Regions from separate parts of the Homo sapiens genome. Here regions 1 and 2 are each reported to be linked to region 3. Evidence: microRNA targets listed by miRTarBase, many of them from high-throughput screens and not tested one by one. Region 3 holds a microRNA gene; each other region holds the end of a gene's coding sequence.
What was found. Region 3 holds the annotated microRNA hsa-miR-3116 (UGCCUGGAACAUAGUAGGGACU, at 3,265-3,286, shown strand). A microRNA usually pairs through its seed, bases 2 to 8, with sites in the 3' UTR of a target mRNA and lowers its output. Matches are read on the target gene's strand: a 7mer-m8 pairs with bases 2 to 8, a 7mer-A1 pairs with bases 2 to 7 and ends in A, and an 8mer does both.

Region 1 (5,075 bases), not on the chromosome of region 3:
TGCCTGAGCTCTAGTGGGTCAGGGGAGAGCTCTAGTGGCCTCAGGGGAAGCCATGGAGGGGCAGGGAGAGGCCACAGCTCCCACAGAGCCAGGGTCTGCAAATGAACACTCTGGGGGGTCATGTGTGGTGTGGAGTCGGGAGAGGGGCGAGAAGGCAGGTCTCTGGTTTTTACTTTGGACACTTGTAACCCAGTGTGAATCCAAGCACAGCTCCTTGGGGGAACTGGGTAGAACTCGACAGAACACAGGGTCTTGAGTCTCAGCAGTAAGCTGTGTGTGAGGTGTGGACACTGAGCCCTTGGGGTCCTGCCCGGCACCAGAGGCAAGGCAGGTAGAAAGCAGGGGTCTGGCGTCCGGGGTTGGACCACAAGCTGGGGAGGGTGCTGGGGCCGGTGCCGCCCGACCTTGGCAGGCAAAATGCCCTGCAGGATCCCAAGAGCCTGACTGACTTAAGTCTTATCTTTAGAGGTCTGCAGAAAGTCAAAACTTTGTGTTGTGTGAGCTGGTGCTGGGGTGTGAGGAATGGCCTGGCAGCAGGAGCCCCCTGTCACTCACCACCTTACCCTACAGAAGGGGGCTGGACTAACTTCCAGATTCAAACACTAAAGCCCTAACCCCAGCCCCTTCAGATGTGGCTCTATGTGGACATGGGGACTTTAACGACGTGGTGAAGTTAAAATGAGGCCATCGGGGTAAGCCCCAATCCAATCTGACTGGTGTCCTCTTGAGAGGGGAGTAGAGGGGAAGAGAGGCACCAGGGCCACGCAGGCACCAAAGAGAGGCCCTGCGAGGAGGCAGCGCCTCCAAGCCCAGGAGAGAGGCCTTGGGAGAAACCAAGCCCGCCCACAGCTTGGTCGTGGACTTGCAGCCTCCAGAACTGTGAGGAAATGAACTTCTGTGTCAGCCACCCAGTCTGGGGTATTCCATTATGGCCGTCCTAGAAAACTTACACAGATTCCGGGTTACCTCTGCTTTATGATCTAACCCACTGCCTACCAGAATTCAAAATGCTTGGTAAGTAACACAATAAACAAAAAGGCTGTTGGGTTAATACTTTTAATTACATGATTGTAATTATACAATTTCCACTATTCGATATTTTGTATAAAACCAGTTACAACCCACAAGATTTTCAAATGTGACAATATGTATCAAACTACATACATATGCAAAGTTTACACGCCATTAGGAAGCTTTATCTTAAAAATACCTTCAGGAAAATAAACATTCATTCAACCAGTTCTCTTGGCTTTAAAAAATATGATTAGAAATATACGCTGTAAAAAAAAATCAAGACAATGATTGATCAATACTGATCAGTTACATTTTAAAACTTTTAATAATCTGTACATGAGTGCAGGTTAGATAAAAGTCTGCAAATTATTAATAGAAAACTGCAGTACTATCATCGGATGAACATGTCTGCTGACAATTCTACCAGGTAATTAAGGAGGTAATTTCCTACACAGTATAGGTGAATTGTCCAGTCTTTAAACACATCTGGAGTCATCTCCACTGAGTGACATGGAGAATAACCTGATGTGGGTAAATGGAAGAGCAGCAGATAGCCTCTCCAGGGCAGTTTCAGCGGGAGAGAACATTTAAAGGAACAATAAAATAGGTTTTAAAAGTTGCTTTTGATGAGCACTGCTTTCCAAAATGCAATAATGATTTTTTTTAATGTAGAAAGAGAAGCTGTGTTAAGAACAGACATCCAATGAGTGCACTGCTTCTGTGGCTCCAAAGGTGACTGGGAAAAGAGAAGGCCCCAGGAGAGCCCTCAGGCCACACACAAGCCCAGGCCATCCCGCCCAGCCCAGCGAGCACACTGGCCTCATAACAATGCTTGGGAACTCCTCTAAAACTTGCCTAGGCCCAAGAAAACAGAGAGGTAGCAATCACCCCTGTGAGAGGGCTAGAGAGGAGGGGAGGAAGTAGGTAGGGGACAGGCTAGGGGCATCAAGCTCAGAACAGGGGAATTCTGGAGGCCGCAGAGCTGCGTGCTGCCGGGAAGCACTGGCCACGCCAGGCCATTCTGCTCTCACGAGGCGCTGCTCCTCACCAAATTCTACAAAAAGCTAAGTCCGTCTATACTTCTAGGAACCCAGTTTTGCAGACGCTCTTCCTCCGGACTGTCCCTGACTTTTGATAATTTTGAGTCCCCAGAAAGCTTCAAGAGCACCTAAAAATATTCACTTCCAATTTTAATTCCATCGCAAACCGTCCCAGTGTACTTTCAGGGCTATTTAAGGCTCTTAGGTTAAGGGGATCTCTCCATCTGACACACAGTTTCATGTTCCATAGCAACAAGGTCTTCTATAACAACGACTCTAAGTCAGAATTCCAGAAGATTCTGGTTGTTTGTGGTTTCAGTTGGGGGTGAGGGGAAGAGTCCACTCTCATTCATAGCAGGAAGAACTTTCCATCCCTCAGACCCAGAGACTTCCTGGATGCTAGAGACAGTCCTCATAAGTGTAACACTGCCCTTGCTATGCACACCATCCCAAGTCATTTGGTTATTACAAGGAATGCCTCTTCACCAAATCACAAGTTTTCTATGACTAATTTCAGTGAACCAGTTAAATAGAAAGATTTTTAGAAAGAGCCACAGTGATAGCAATTCTAGGTGGAAACTTGAGCAGGCAACATGAAGAGGCAGTTTATAAAATGAAAAAGGGCTGTGGTTCCAGTGACACCCTTTCTTTTCTTGGACGAAACACCAGGAGGCTCATTCACCGTGAGGGAGACAGTACTCACAAGAGCTGTGGCGCCTACGTTTACTTGTTCTGATGGGATGAAAAGCCAAACTAAGAAGGGATCAGATAGAAGCACGATTTTCACAACTACCTGGATTATTATTAATGGAGGGGATGGCCTTAAAAGGGGTAAGGGGAAGAAGAGGTGCCCTGAGAATTCAATGCTTTATGCATGGCACAGTTTGAATATTTATATTGTCTCAGCTCAAAATAGCAAAAGGAATGTTCCTCCTCCCACCCAAATCTTATTGAAGAGTAGTCTGCCCACAGCCAAGTGGGTCTTTGTGCCTATTCATTTCCAGGGACAGAAAACCACTGTTTTTCTGTGATCCAGTCCCCAGTGTTTAAAAGCTGGCCTGACCCCACCCGACAGTGCCTGGCGGGGAAAGAGTTGCTTGTTTGGCTGAGAACACGGCATCTTCCGTCTCTCATGATGCCGGTCAATTTTATACTTTCTTCCAAGAAAGTACACCAAAATGGAGGCACTGCCTTTCAATTACTTTTTGCATTAAAGACTTTTAACTTGTTTATTCCAACCGCTTTTATTTCTTCCAGTTTTGTGAAAAAGGCAGCTTCTTAAAATGGAGTTGCCTACTAATCTGGCGCACGCCTTGTGGCTTAGGAGGGCATTTGTTTCCCACTGCCTGTCGACATCTCAGCCCTCCATGCTCCCGGCACAGGCAAAAATGGCTTAACAATCATTAAACCACCCACTTCTTATGGAAGGAACTGAGGTGAGTACTATATATTCTTTTATTTCGGGCCCCATTTTTTTTTTTTTTTTTAGCAGCACATCAATTCTGTTTCTGTAACTGCTTCATGGCACAGACTCTGCTGTGTTCCAGTAGGGCTGCGGGAGAAGGCACTCTGCAGAGTTACTAGTTGTGTTCCCTAACCAAAGGCAACAGTGAGATCCAGAAGCAGATCATTGTCACTGAGATCGCAGGCCACGTCAATGGCCTTAGGTGGATCTCATAAGGGAAAAAAAAAATCCAATGTTACAGGGAAGGACTCTAAAAAAGTGGTAACTTTTTTTTTTTGTAAGCCGACATTATTTGGGATTGCTGTTTCCAAGGGGAAAAACCAATAGTGTGTTTCTTCCATTCATGGAAGGAAATATGATTTTAATTTGTATGACTGGCAACCAAACAATGGGCAGCCTCCCAGTTCTTCAGTCCCTGAAGGACAGAAAAAGGAACGACTTGCAACATCTTCCAACTCTGAAGTCAGTTTCTCCTCCTGAGTCTTCTAAAGCTACCATTAATATTCTCTTGCAAGTTTTAGGTTACTAAGGTACCACCTGGTCTTACAACATGCAACAGTGTTTAAATGTGATTTTCACAGATTCTTGTTAATAAAGCACTCTTTGGTGGAAGACAAGCAGCTTGGGTACTTAACAGAGTTAACATTACAACAGTATTACAAATAGTCAAGTGAAGATGATTAAGCCAAATAGTATCAAATTACAGAAAGTACCATTTCAGTAATGCCTTTTGTATCTTTATAAATTTTGACACAGGGTCACAAGGTGAACAGAAAATAAATACATAAAAAACCTCCATCAGATCCTCAATTCTTCTGAAGGCCAGCAACTACAATGATTGCCATCACAGGGACACACATGCACCACAGACCAGCCAGCTCCCTGGGTACCAGAGGGCTTGGGTATTTACACCTGAGACTAAATTTACAACAGCATGTTTGTCATTCAGCTTGAGAGCTGGACCCTTCTCTGAGTCATTTGCTTGCACCCAAACTCAAAGTTCATTATTCAAACTCCAGTGGACATTTTCTCCATTGATCAACTTCTTAGGTGGAAAAAGCAACTAAGGCTTTTGCAATTTTGTTTTGTTTTCAAATTGTGCTAATTTCTGTTGCAGTTTTCAGTCCTAGAGTCTTCCTTCAGCTCTGGTCACAGGTTTTTACTTAACGCAAGACTGTTTTAGTCCTTGAAATGGAGAGACTACAGGGGGAAAAAAAAGGATTTTTACCAGAAAGTTTACACAGCGTCCACAGGCAGTTATCAAAGACAAGGAGGGCAACATAATAAAAATACTGACATGCTAAAAAGTATACGCTTGCTGTAAGTTTCTAATGACAAATACTTTGGAGAAGACAACACAATATCAACCACAAAGGAAAGACAAACAGGAGAAAGGCAGGGCAGAAAAAGGCTCAGTTCTGCAAAAAATAGAAATTTAAAAAAACCAATACGAGTAAATAAAAATCATAAAAGACGGACGGGCAGGGGCAGCAGGGCCAGGAAAGTACCATGACGCCGCCAGGGGCACGTGCTGCAAAGCACTCCTTGTCCTTCCT
Region 2 (5,075 bases), not on the chromosome of region 3:
CCTATACCTCATTCTTAATAGTGGAATACAGCTTATTTCTGTCATCATACTGAGGTGTACCTTTTGGGGGTTAACTAATAAAAACAGTAACTTGGCCATGCGCTGAAAAACAGTAACTTGGCCGGGCACAGTGGCTCACGCCTGTAATCCTAGCACTTTGGGAGGCCGAGGCAGGTGGATCACCTGAGGTCAGGAGTTCGAGACCAGCCTGGCTAACATGGTGAAACCCTGTTTCTACTAAAAATACAAAAAATGAGCCGGGCGTGGTGGCACACACCTATAATACCAGCTACTCGGGAGGCAGAGGTTGCAGTGAACTGAGATTGTGCCATTGCACTCTAGCATGGGCAGCAAGAGCGAAACTCAGTCTGAAAAATAAATAAATACAAATAAAAACAGTAACTCCTGGAGTTAGAGTGTCAGGTTTTGTGGCTTTTTCTATATTAAACTTACTTTTTTTTTTCTTAGATTCAAAAACATGCCACAGGAAAGAAGTCTCCAGCAAAGAGTCCTAATCCCAGCACACCTCGTGGGAAGAAAAGAAAGGCTTTGCCAGCATCTGAGACCCCAAAAGCTGCAGAGTCTGAGACCCCAGGGAAAAGCCCAGAGAAGAAGCCAAAAATCAAAGAAGAGGCAGTGAAGGAAAAAAGTCCTTCGCTGGGGAAAAAAGATGCGAGACAGACTCCAAAAAAGCCAGAGGCCAAGTTTTTCACCACTCCTAGTAAATCTGTGAGAAAAGCTTCCCACACCCCCAAAAAATGGCCCAAAAAACCCAAAGTACCCCAGTCGACCTAAAGTCAGTGATTCAACTGGAAGGAAACCTCAATGCTGCCTCCAGAGCTTTTTGGAAATACTCAGATCCTGGCCGCCTTTGTAACCTTCTCTAAACGTCAGGCCTGGACTTAAAAGATTTTTTAAAACCTCCATAAGTAGTCCAGGGGCGGTGGCTCACGCCTGTAATCCCAGCACTTTGGGAGGCCGAGGCAGGCGGATCACAAGGTCAACGAGATCGAGACCATCCTGGCCAACATGGTGAAACCCTGTCTGTACCAAAAATACAAAAATTAATTGGGCATGGTGGTGGACACCTGTAATCCCAGCTACTAGGGAGGCTGAGGCAGGAGAATTGCTTGAACCTGGGAGGCGGAGGTTGCAGTGAGCCACTGCACTCCAGCCTGATGACAGAGCAAGACTCAGTCTCAAAAATAAATAAAAATAATAAAACCTCCATAAGTAATCCTGACATATGTTCCTGGGTATAATCTGTTTCTAAATTGTCCTTCTGTGTATTTGCTAATGTAATAGAGGGAAAAATAGAGTGCTTCTCTGTGGTTGTTCAGCACTTTAGGTAGCCAAGGTGAGAGGATTGCTTGAGGCCAGGAGTTTGAGACTAGCCTGGGCAACTTGGTAAAACCCCATCTCTACAAAAGAAAAAAAAAAATTAGTGTGGCATGGTGGCATGCATCTGTGCTCCCAGCTCCTCACGAGGCTGAGGTGGAAGGATCAAGTGAGCGCAAGAGGTTGAGGCTCCAGTGAGCCACGATCACCCCACTGTGCTGTAGCCTGGGTGACAGTGTGAGATTCTGTCTCAGAAAAAACAAAGTATAACATTGCTTTGCTTCTGAGTATACTGTTGGCTTTCCAAATCAGTGGGTCTGACTTGAGGTCTGTGATGTGACCCTTTTCCTCACCTGCTCAACCATTATTCACATGGACTCCATCATATTCATTTGTAGTCATTCCCAGAGTGGCCCAGTGAGGGTCTCGCTGTATGAGAGTCGGCTACGGAATTTAGGAGAAACAGAAGTTTCTTGGCTTTCATGCTGAGCTTGTTGGTCTAAGCTTATGAGTCACTGGATTAGCATCCATATGGGAAGGGAAATTAACATGGAGTCATTTATACAGGGACTAAATTGAATCCTACCTACCGGAGGCAAGAACATGATTTATCTTCCATAAGCCTTATCCTCTTCCTCCTTATTCCTCAGTCCATATGGATTTGCTTATGTATGACAACTCCAAGGAATCTTGGAAGAGTAGATTGCTAACGTTTCCACAATTGTCAAGTATATTCTGAGGCAGTAAACACCTTTTTAGGTACGTGGCCTTTCACTGGTTGTGAATTGGTATGCATCCGTAGTAGTAAGTTCACAGATTCACTGCAGTGCAGGAATGTTCTTGCATGCCAAAGACTCAACTGCTTTCAAAGATAATGTGGGTGCTAGATGCAGTGGCTTACATCTGTAACCCTGTTAGGGTGACCAGACCCAACACCAGGTCGTGGGGGTGACAAAGTCCAGTGGAGTCAAAGGATTGAGAAAAAGACAGTTTGAGAGAGAAGTAGGACCAGCAGACCATCGGGATGGTGGAGGCTGTGAAGGCCGTGAGCTCTGGGAGCCCACACTATTTATTGGTAATCCAACAAAGAAACAGATGGTGAGAATGTGAAGGTCAGAAGGGCACCTTGCATTAAGCACATGATTTACAGCTGTGATGGTTTAGCATTTGCTCTGCTACTTGAGATGATGGAGAGCAGGTTCTTTTAACTCAAGTTACAGTCGATCCTGGGAGAGCAAGGAGCCAGCAAGTCTAGACATTCCAGAGCCACAGGCCCTGGATTTTATCCAAGCCACGAGGGATTTTATGCCCTGGGCTTAGATTATGGTGCGTCAGGGCAGCCTTCCACCCTTTAGCACAGAGCTTGGTGTTCCAAAGACCACAAGGGGTTTTAGACCCTTGACCCTGGACATATTCCAAGACTCTTTTACATTATGTCAGAATGCAAGCCCTGCCTCAGCTTCTCCCAACACTCAGCTTTTCGCAACATAATCCCAGCACTTTGGAACGCTGGGTGGATTGCTTGAACCCAGGAGTTCGAGACCATCCTGGGCAATATGGCAAAACCCCATCTTTACCAAAAATAAGCTGGGTGTGGTGGAACATGCCTGTGGTCCCAGCTTCTTGGGAGGCTGAGGTGGGAGGATTGCTTGAACCCGGGAGGTAGAGGCTGCAATGGGCCATGATCACGATCCTGCACTCCAGCCTGGGCAACAGAGAGAGACAGTCCCTGGCCCACTGCCCCCTTCCCTGGCCCAGTCTCAAAAAAAATGAGGCTGGGCGTGGTGGCTCACATCTGTAATCCCAGCCAAGGCTGGCAGATCACTTGAGGCCAGGAGTTCTGAGACCAGCCTGGCTTACATGGTGAAACCCCATCTCTACTAAAAATACAAAAACTAGCCAGGCATGGTGGGAGGCACCTGTAATCCCAGCTACTTGGGAGGCTGAAGCAGGAGAATCACTTTAACCCGGGAGGTGGAGGTTGCAGTGAGCTGAGATCACACCACTGCACTCCAGCCTGGGCGGCAGAGCAAAACTGAAAAAAAGAGAAAAAAAAAAACATCTAGCTCTCCCTGAAATTAGAGGAGTCTAGCCTGCTTTTGCTGTTTTTTTGGTAGCGAGAGTAGCGGGCAGTGGGGGAGATGGTCTTACTCTGTTCCCCAGGCTGGAGTGCACTAGTGTCATCACAGCTCCAGCCTCAATTTCCTGGGCTCAAGGCGATCTTCCCACCTCAGCCTCCCAAGTAGCTCAGACTACAGGGGCATGCCATCACAGCTGGCCAGTTTTTACGTCTTGCGTAGAGATGGGTTTTCCCTGTGTTCCCTAGGCTGGGCTCGAACTCCTGGGCTCAAGTCCTCCTGCCTCAGCCTCCCAAAATGTTCAGATTACAGGCATGAGGCAGCATGCCAATCCTGTTTTTGCATTTTAGTAACACAAATTGTAATGTTAACTTTTTAAATTATGAAAGCATCTAAAATATAAAATTATTTGTAACCCCACTGTCCTTTTGGGCTTCTATAAATGAATATACATCTAAAATGTGGGGGTTTAGCTTAATTGATTGTTTTCCATAGAAACTAGGTTTTATGGGAAGATGGTTGGATAGACTTGTTTCACTTAAAGGTCTGGTTTGTGTAGGACAAACCCACATATGTAATCGTGCCAGTCTGTTCTCTGCATGACATAATTTTCCAGCAATAGCTGTGTGGTTTTTGTAATCCTATCATCTAGTCAGTTCAAGATCTTGCAACACTGTGTGATTCTTTGCTCCGTAGTTCAGTCTTGTTGAACATGACACAGGTGTTTACTTTCCTGTTCTTGCATCTAGTTTCATTCTAATAATGTTCTCTGTTGAAAAAGCTGGCTTCAATTTATTGAGCAAGATGCTGGTGTTATCATCTAACATAAAACCTATCTTATAATAAAGTGTTGACACATGTAATGAGTACTGTACTGAAAAATGGTGGTATGTATATGGTTTGTACTGATTATGTATCGCTTTTATACCATCAAAAAGTTGAAAAATCATAAAGTTGAATCATCCTAAAATGGGTACATTCTGTACTATGTTTCCAAGGCTTCAGAAGTGTTGCATACACATTCCTAGCCAGCTGATAGTGCTAGGAGCCAACAGTAGTCTCCCCCGGGGGCCAAGAGGAGGGCGAAATCTCTACTATGGTATATGATGTTCTCGTGGGCCAAGTATGAGGGTGATATTTCATTGTTGGCACTGGGTTTCTGGAATCCATCCTCTTCACCAGGGAGATTTAATGAACCAAATGAGATCTGATGGGAGAAATTTGAGTGTAACGTTTTTGTTCTGAAGGAAGTAATTGAGTTTTAGTTCATTTGTTTTTTAGGAATCGTAATAATTAAAATTTCATTTTAAATGCCATGAATGTATTTAAGTCAATCCAACTGTATAATAAACACCACATTGTGGCTGGGCACGGTGGCTCACGCCTGTAATCCCAGCAATTTGGGAGGCTGAAGTGGGCAGATCACCTGAGGTTGGGAGTTCAAAACCAGCCTGCCCAACATGGCAAAACCTTGTCTCTACTAAAAATACAAAAATTAGCCGATACGGTAGTGGACATCTGTAATCCCAGCTACTCAAGAGGCTGAGGCAGGATCCGTCTCAAAAAAAAAAAAAAAAAGTCCAGGCGTGGTGGCTTACACCTGTAATCCCAGCACTTTGAGAAGCCAAGGCAGGTGGATCACGAGGTCAGGAGATCGAG
Region 3 (5,075 bases):
CTTCTTTATAGAAAAATCTTGCCAATAAGACAAAAAGAAAGGCTCTAGGTAAGATACAGGCAAGGCAGAATATTAAATTGTAAACCAAATTTGTCTTTAAATCTTTTTGCAGCATATGTATTTTATACCACATTTCCCATTAATTTACAATAAAAATGACGTACGATAGTGGCACACTTTCATGGGTGCTTTAAAAAGTTTCTATTGCTTTTAGGTCGGGTGCGGTGGCTCACGCCTGTAACCTCAGCACTTTGGGAGGCTGAGGTGGGCGGATCACCTGAGTTCAGGAGTTTGATACCAGCCTGACCAACATGGTGAAACCCTGTCTCTACTAAAAATACAAAATTAGCCAGGCATGGTGGCACATGCCTGTAATCCCAACTACTAGGAAGGCTAAGGCAGGAGAATCACTTGAACCCAGGAGGCAGAGGTTGCAGTGAGCCGAGATCACACCATTGCACTCCAGCCTGGGCAACAAGAGCAAAACTCCATCTCAAATAAATAAATAGATAAGTAAATAAAAAGTTTATACTGCCTTTGTAAATGACTAGCGTAGTCTCCTGAGTGAGAAGAGAGAAAAAAACCTGGTGAGACATCCTGGAGATGGCATTTCTTTTCCCTCCTCCACGTTTGCCTCACCCTAGCCAGTCCTGAGTCAATCTTTTTATTTACTTCTCTCATGGAATCCAGCCCCAAACCCAGCTCATACCAAGTCCTCAATAAATGCTTGGTAAGTAGATGAGTAAATGAATAAAATTTCTATAGATTCAACTGTAGGATGATGAACTTCATTTATTTATTTATTTGTTTATTTATTATTTAACCATGAGAATGAAAACCAGGAAGGATGCTGAATTTCTGTCATCTAAGTATAAATATGTGATATATATTACCAAAACTCAACTTGTCTACCTCCATAGTCAGCATGCATTGTTGGTAAAGTGCCAAGTATACATATTTTAATAGGGCATTACAGGCCAGACTGTCTCTGTTGTGACTACTTAACTCCATCATTATAGTGTGAAAAAAGCCACTGACAATACAGAAACAAATGAGTGTCTATAAACCTGTATTTGTGGACACTGAAATATGAATTTCATAGAATATTTTAATAAAATTTTCTTAGGTGTTTTTTCAACCTTTAAAAAGTGAACACCTTTTTTAGCTTGTAGACCATACACAACTAGCTGGTAGGCCAGATTTGACCCATGCGCCATAGTTTTCTGACCACATGCATCAAATGTTTTAGTACATCTACAATGCTTTAAAATAGTACCTGCTTGATGAACTTTATGAAGTTAATATTTATGAAAAAATATATAAAAGGCAAATACCACAAAGATTTCAGAACTGCTAAATTAATGCAGGGTTATGCTTTGCCATTGGTGAGTACTGTCTTTTAAAGAGTTTTATTTTTTACTGATGTATACTGCACAAAAGCAAAGTAGGGCTGGGCACAGTGGCTCACGTCTGTAATCCCAGCACTTTTGGAGGCCGAGGCAGGCAGATCACTTGAGGTCAAGAGTTTGAGACCAGCCTGGCCAACATGGTGAAACCCCATCTCTACTAAAAATGTAAAAATTAGCCGGGCATGGTGGTGAGCACCTGTAATCCCAGCTACTCAGGAGGCCGAGGCAGGAGAATCACTTGAACCCAGGAGGCAGAGGTTGCAGTGAGCTGAGATCAGCCCCCTGCCCTCCAGCCTGGGTGACAGAATGAGACTCTGTCTCAAAAAAAAAGAAAAAAAAGCAAGTAGAAATACCTATTATTCTTTATAAAGTTCTATTTTCAACCCCCAGTCAGCATAATTCAAGCCAGGAATTTAAAGACAGAATGTGCATGCCAATTTCTTTAAGCATTGAAAATCAACATTCTTCAAACAGCTTAAAGCAACATTTGCAGGGCTAAAAATTGGGTTTGATAGGATTTTTAAAGAGATATTACTCAAGACCTAAATATAATCTTTTGTAGAGATTAGAGAAGAATAATACAGAAGCCTCAGATTCAAATAACATTTACTGAGGTCCTTTTCTTTTCCTTTTTTTTTTTTTTGAGACAGAGTCTCACTCTGTCACCCAGGCTGGAGTGCAGTGGTGCAATCTCAGCTTACTGCAACTTCTGCCTCCTGGGTTCAGGCGATTCTCCTGCCTCAGCCTCCCGAGTAGCTGGGATTACAGGCATGCGCCACCATGCCTGGCTAATTTTTCGTATTTTTAGTAGAGACAGGGTTTCACCATGTTGGCCAGGCTGGTCTTGAACTCCTGACCTACTGAGGTCCTGTTCTGTTCTAGTGCTCTTATATTCAAAAAGCAACAGGCAATGGCGATGGCAGAGAGGAGGAAAAATGATGTAGGAAATGAAGTGACCTATCCAAGCCCCAAAGCTAAGGAAGCGGAGGAAGTATCCAGAGTCAGACTTCTGCCTCCTGGTCCAGTTCTCGTTTTAGGACATTATGATCCCTTGCCTTCTCTAAGGCTTAATGAGCCAGATCTGCTGAGAGAAAGAATCATACCATAGCCTGTGAAGTCTGCATCTGTTGAATGGTATGATGAAGCTGGTGCTAATGGTATCTCTTGTGAACTGAAGGAGACTTTTGTTGGATATTTTTGCTGTTTCATCTGGCTGACAGCCTACAAAAGAAAGGAAAATTAGATGAATATCAAAAAGGAGAAAGGTAACAAGAAAATACTTTAAAACTGGTGTATTGTTACCAAAACAATGGTGCAGTCCAATGATGTCTTTTGAGAATATAAGGTTGGAGGGTGGCAAGAAGTTAGGATGATTTATGCCTCGTTCCTCATTCTTCCCTATTTAACTTTACAACTAAAATGCTTTGATGAAGGGCAGATCAAGGAAGGGAGGAAAGATAAAAGCTGAAGATACTCTGTCAGTGTGATCTGTACATGAAGCTGGGGGTGGGAGGCAAAACAAAAATTATCTTGCAATTTCTACTCATTCTGATGAAATCAGCAAGAAGCCCCTTTATCTATGGACTTTGAAGTGACTTATCTGTGTTGTGCACATTGAAAAACAATCTACGCTGGGGATGTTTAGAGCATCAACACTGTCCATTTCTTCTGGACACACTAGAGTCAAAGATGCATTTGGTAGGTTAATTAAGCAAAATGAGGGGCAGACAAAGAAAACCAACACCTACTGAAAGCCTACTAAATGCCAGCTACATCAGTGACATTTAATTCACATAAAGGAAGCATAGCTCCTTTATTGAGTCCCTACTATGTTCCAGGCACCTACGATACCCAGTGCCTGGAACATAGTAGGGACTCAATAAAGTGCTTGATGAATGAATGAACAAGAAAGAAAGAACAAAGAAAAGCAAAACTGAAGACATGAGTAACTCAGGGTAGAAAGTGAACTTGCAATTCAGTGAAGGTACAGGGACCTCTACTGTGTGAGTTTGGGAAAAATTAACTTGTAATTCTGGATTTTTGCTGACAGTACCTCCAATGAATATTAATATTAAAAAACTAAGGGGCCAGGCATGGTGGCTCACGCCTGTAAACCCAGCACTTTGGGAGGCTGAGATGGGCAGATCACCTGACATCAGGAGTTCGAGACCAGCCTGGCTAACATGGTGAAACCCCATCTCTACTGAAAAAAATACAAAAATTAGCCAGGCGTGGTGATGCATGCCTGTAATCCCAGCTACTTGGGAGGCTGAGGCAGGAGAATTGCTTGAACCCAGGAGGCAGAGGTTGCAGTGAGCTGAGACCGTGCCATTGCACTCCAGCCTGGGCAACAAGAATGAAACTCCGTCTCCAAAAATAAATACATACATACATACATACACTAAGAAAAACCAAAAGGACTCCTTGCTTATTTAACAGGCAGTTAAGAAATATAGGTAGTAACCTGACCTGCCTTCTGGATCTGCAGTTGGCCAGGGAACCCATCCCCAGCTGGAAGAGTCTGGTAGTGAAGCACCAGGTTGCCCCTGGAGTCTAGAAATAGGACCAAGGTAACTGCTCCAGAACTGTAACACCTCAAGATTCTGTCAGTGGAAAGCTGTGCCTCAATACAGGGCATTGTGCAGTGTGCAGTAACAACAAAACAATACCATCCATTGTGCATATGCACTGTGCTTTCTAGTTTTCAAAACACTTTTACATCCATAAATTCATTCAATCACATGAACAACCCCGACAGTTAAATATTACTTTTTTTCTTTTTGCAGAAAACCAAGCATAAATGTCAAGTGACATATTTGAAATCACACTGCTAATTAGAGAAAGAGGTAGAACCGGAAGTCAATAGTTGAAGAATGCTACAAGCTTAAAGTGTTTATCAAACAGCTGATAGGCAATGATTCTATGGAGTTTTTTTGTTTTTTCCTGCAGTTTTTCTATCACCATCTTCTTTTTTTTTTTTTTTTGGACAGGGTCTCACTCTGTCACCTAGGCTGTAATAGTTGTGTGATCTCGGCTCACTGAAGCCTTGATGTCCTGGGCTCAGGTGATTCTCCCACCTCAGCCTCCTGAATACCTGGGATTACAGGCGCACACCACCACGCCTGGCTAATTTTTTGTATTTTTAGTAAAGATGGAGTTTTGCTATGTTGCCCAGGCTGGTCTCGAACTCCTGGACTCAAGCAATCCACCCACCTCAGCATCTCAGAGTGCTGGGATTACAGGCATGAGCCACTGTGCCCCGCCACTATCAGCATCATTTAATATTGACTAAAAAGAGACTTTTTCAATTACATATTTATCAGTGATTTTTAAAGGAAGAAAGTAGAAAAGGACAAATAAGGGGTTACTATAAGAAAACAACATTGAGAGGACTTAGATATCCAATTATTCTAAGGACCACATTTACTAGCCTCATTGAAGGTAGGTGTGCCAACAGGCTAAGTCCTGGTCAATGGGATGTAAACAGAAGTGAATGTACAATTTTTAGGTCATTCTCCTAAGGAGAAAGATCCTGTCTTTCCCTTCTCACTGCTTGGAATACAGATGTGTTGGTAATAACTGAAGCAGCCCTCTTAAACTAAAGAATGGATGCCACCATTTGAGGGTGGTAGAGTAATCAAATAAGAATGGTATAGTAATCAGATA

Region 1: miRTarBase lists CDC14B as a target of hsa-miR-3116. Seed matches in the 3' UTR shown: 7mer-A1 at 3,130-3,136.
Region 2: the mRNA of RSL1D1 is a reported target of hsa-miR-3116. Seed matches in the 3' UTR shown: 7mer-A1 at 3,238-3,244.

Annotation. Positions count from the first base shown.
Region 1 is chr9:96,499,071-96,504,145 of GRCh38, forward strand. It overlaps CDC14B (cell division cycle 14B), which reads right to left. Exons shown (of 14, transcript NM_033331.4): 14 at 1,043-4,719. The coding sequence ends at 4,683. Among named protein-coding and RNA genes, the nearest start is that of HABP4, 51 kb to the left of the region's middle.
Region 2 is chr16:11,833,507-11,838,581 of GRCh38, reverse strand. RSL1D1 (ribosomal L1 domain containing 1) reads left to right here. Exons shown (of 9, transcript NM_015659.3): 9 at 469-4,732. The coding sequence ends at 795. Among named protein-coding and RNA genes, the nearest start is that of BCAR4, 7.2 kb to the right of the region's middle. RefSeq lists a silencer at 1-145.
Region 3 is chr1:62,077,005-62,082,079 of GRCh38, reverse strand. MIR3116-2 (microRNA 3116-2) reads left to right here and starts at 3,224; the gene lies at 3,224-3,291. PATJ (PATJ crumbs cell polarity complex component) reads right to left here. Exons shown (of 44, transcript NM_001350145.3): 32 at 2,513-2,630. MIR3116-1 (microRNA 3116-1) reads right to left here and starts at 3,294; the gene lies at 3,221-3,294.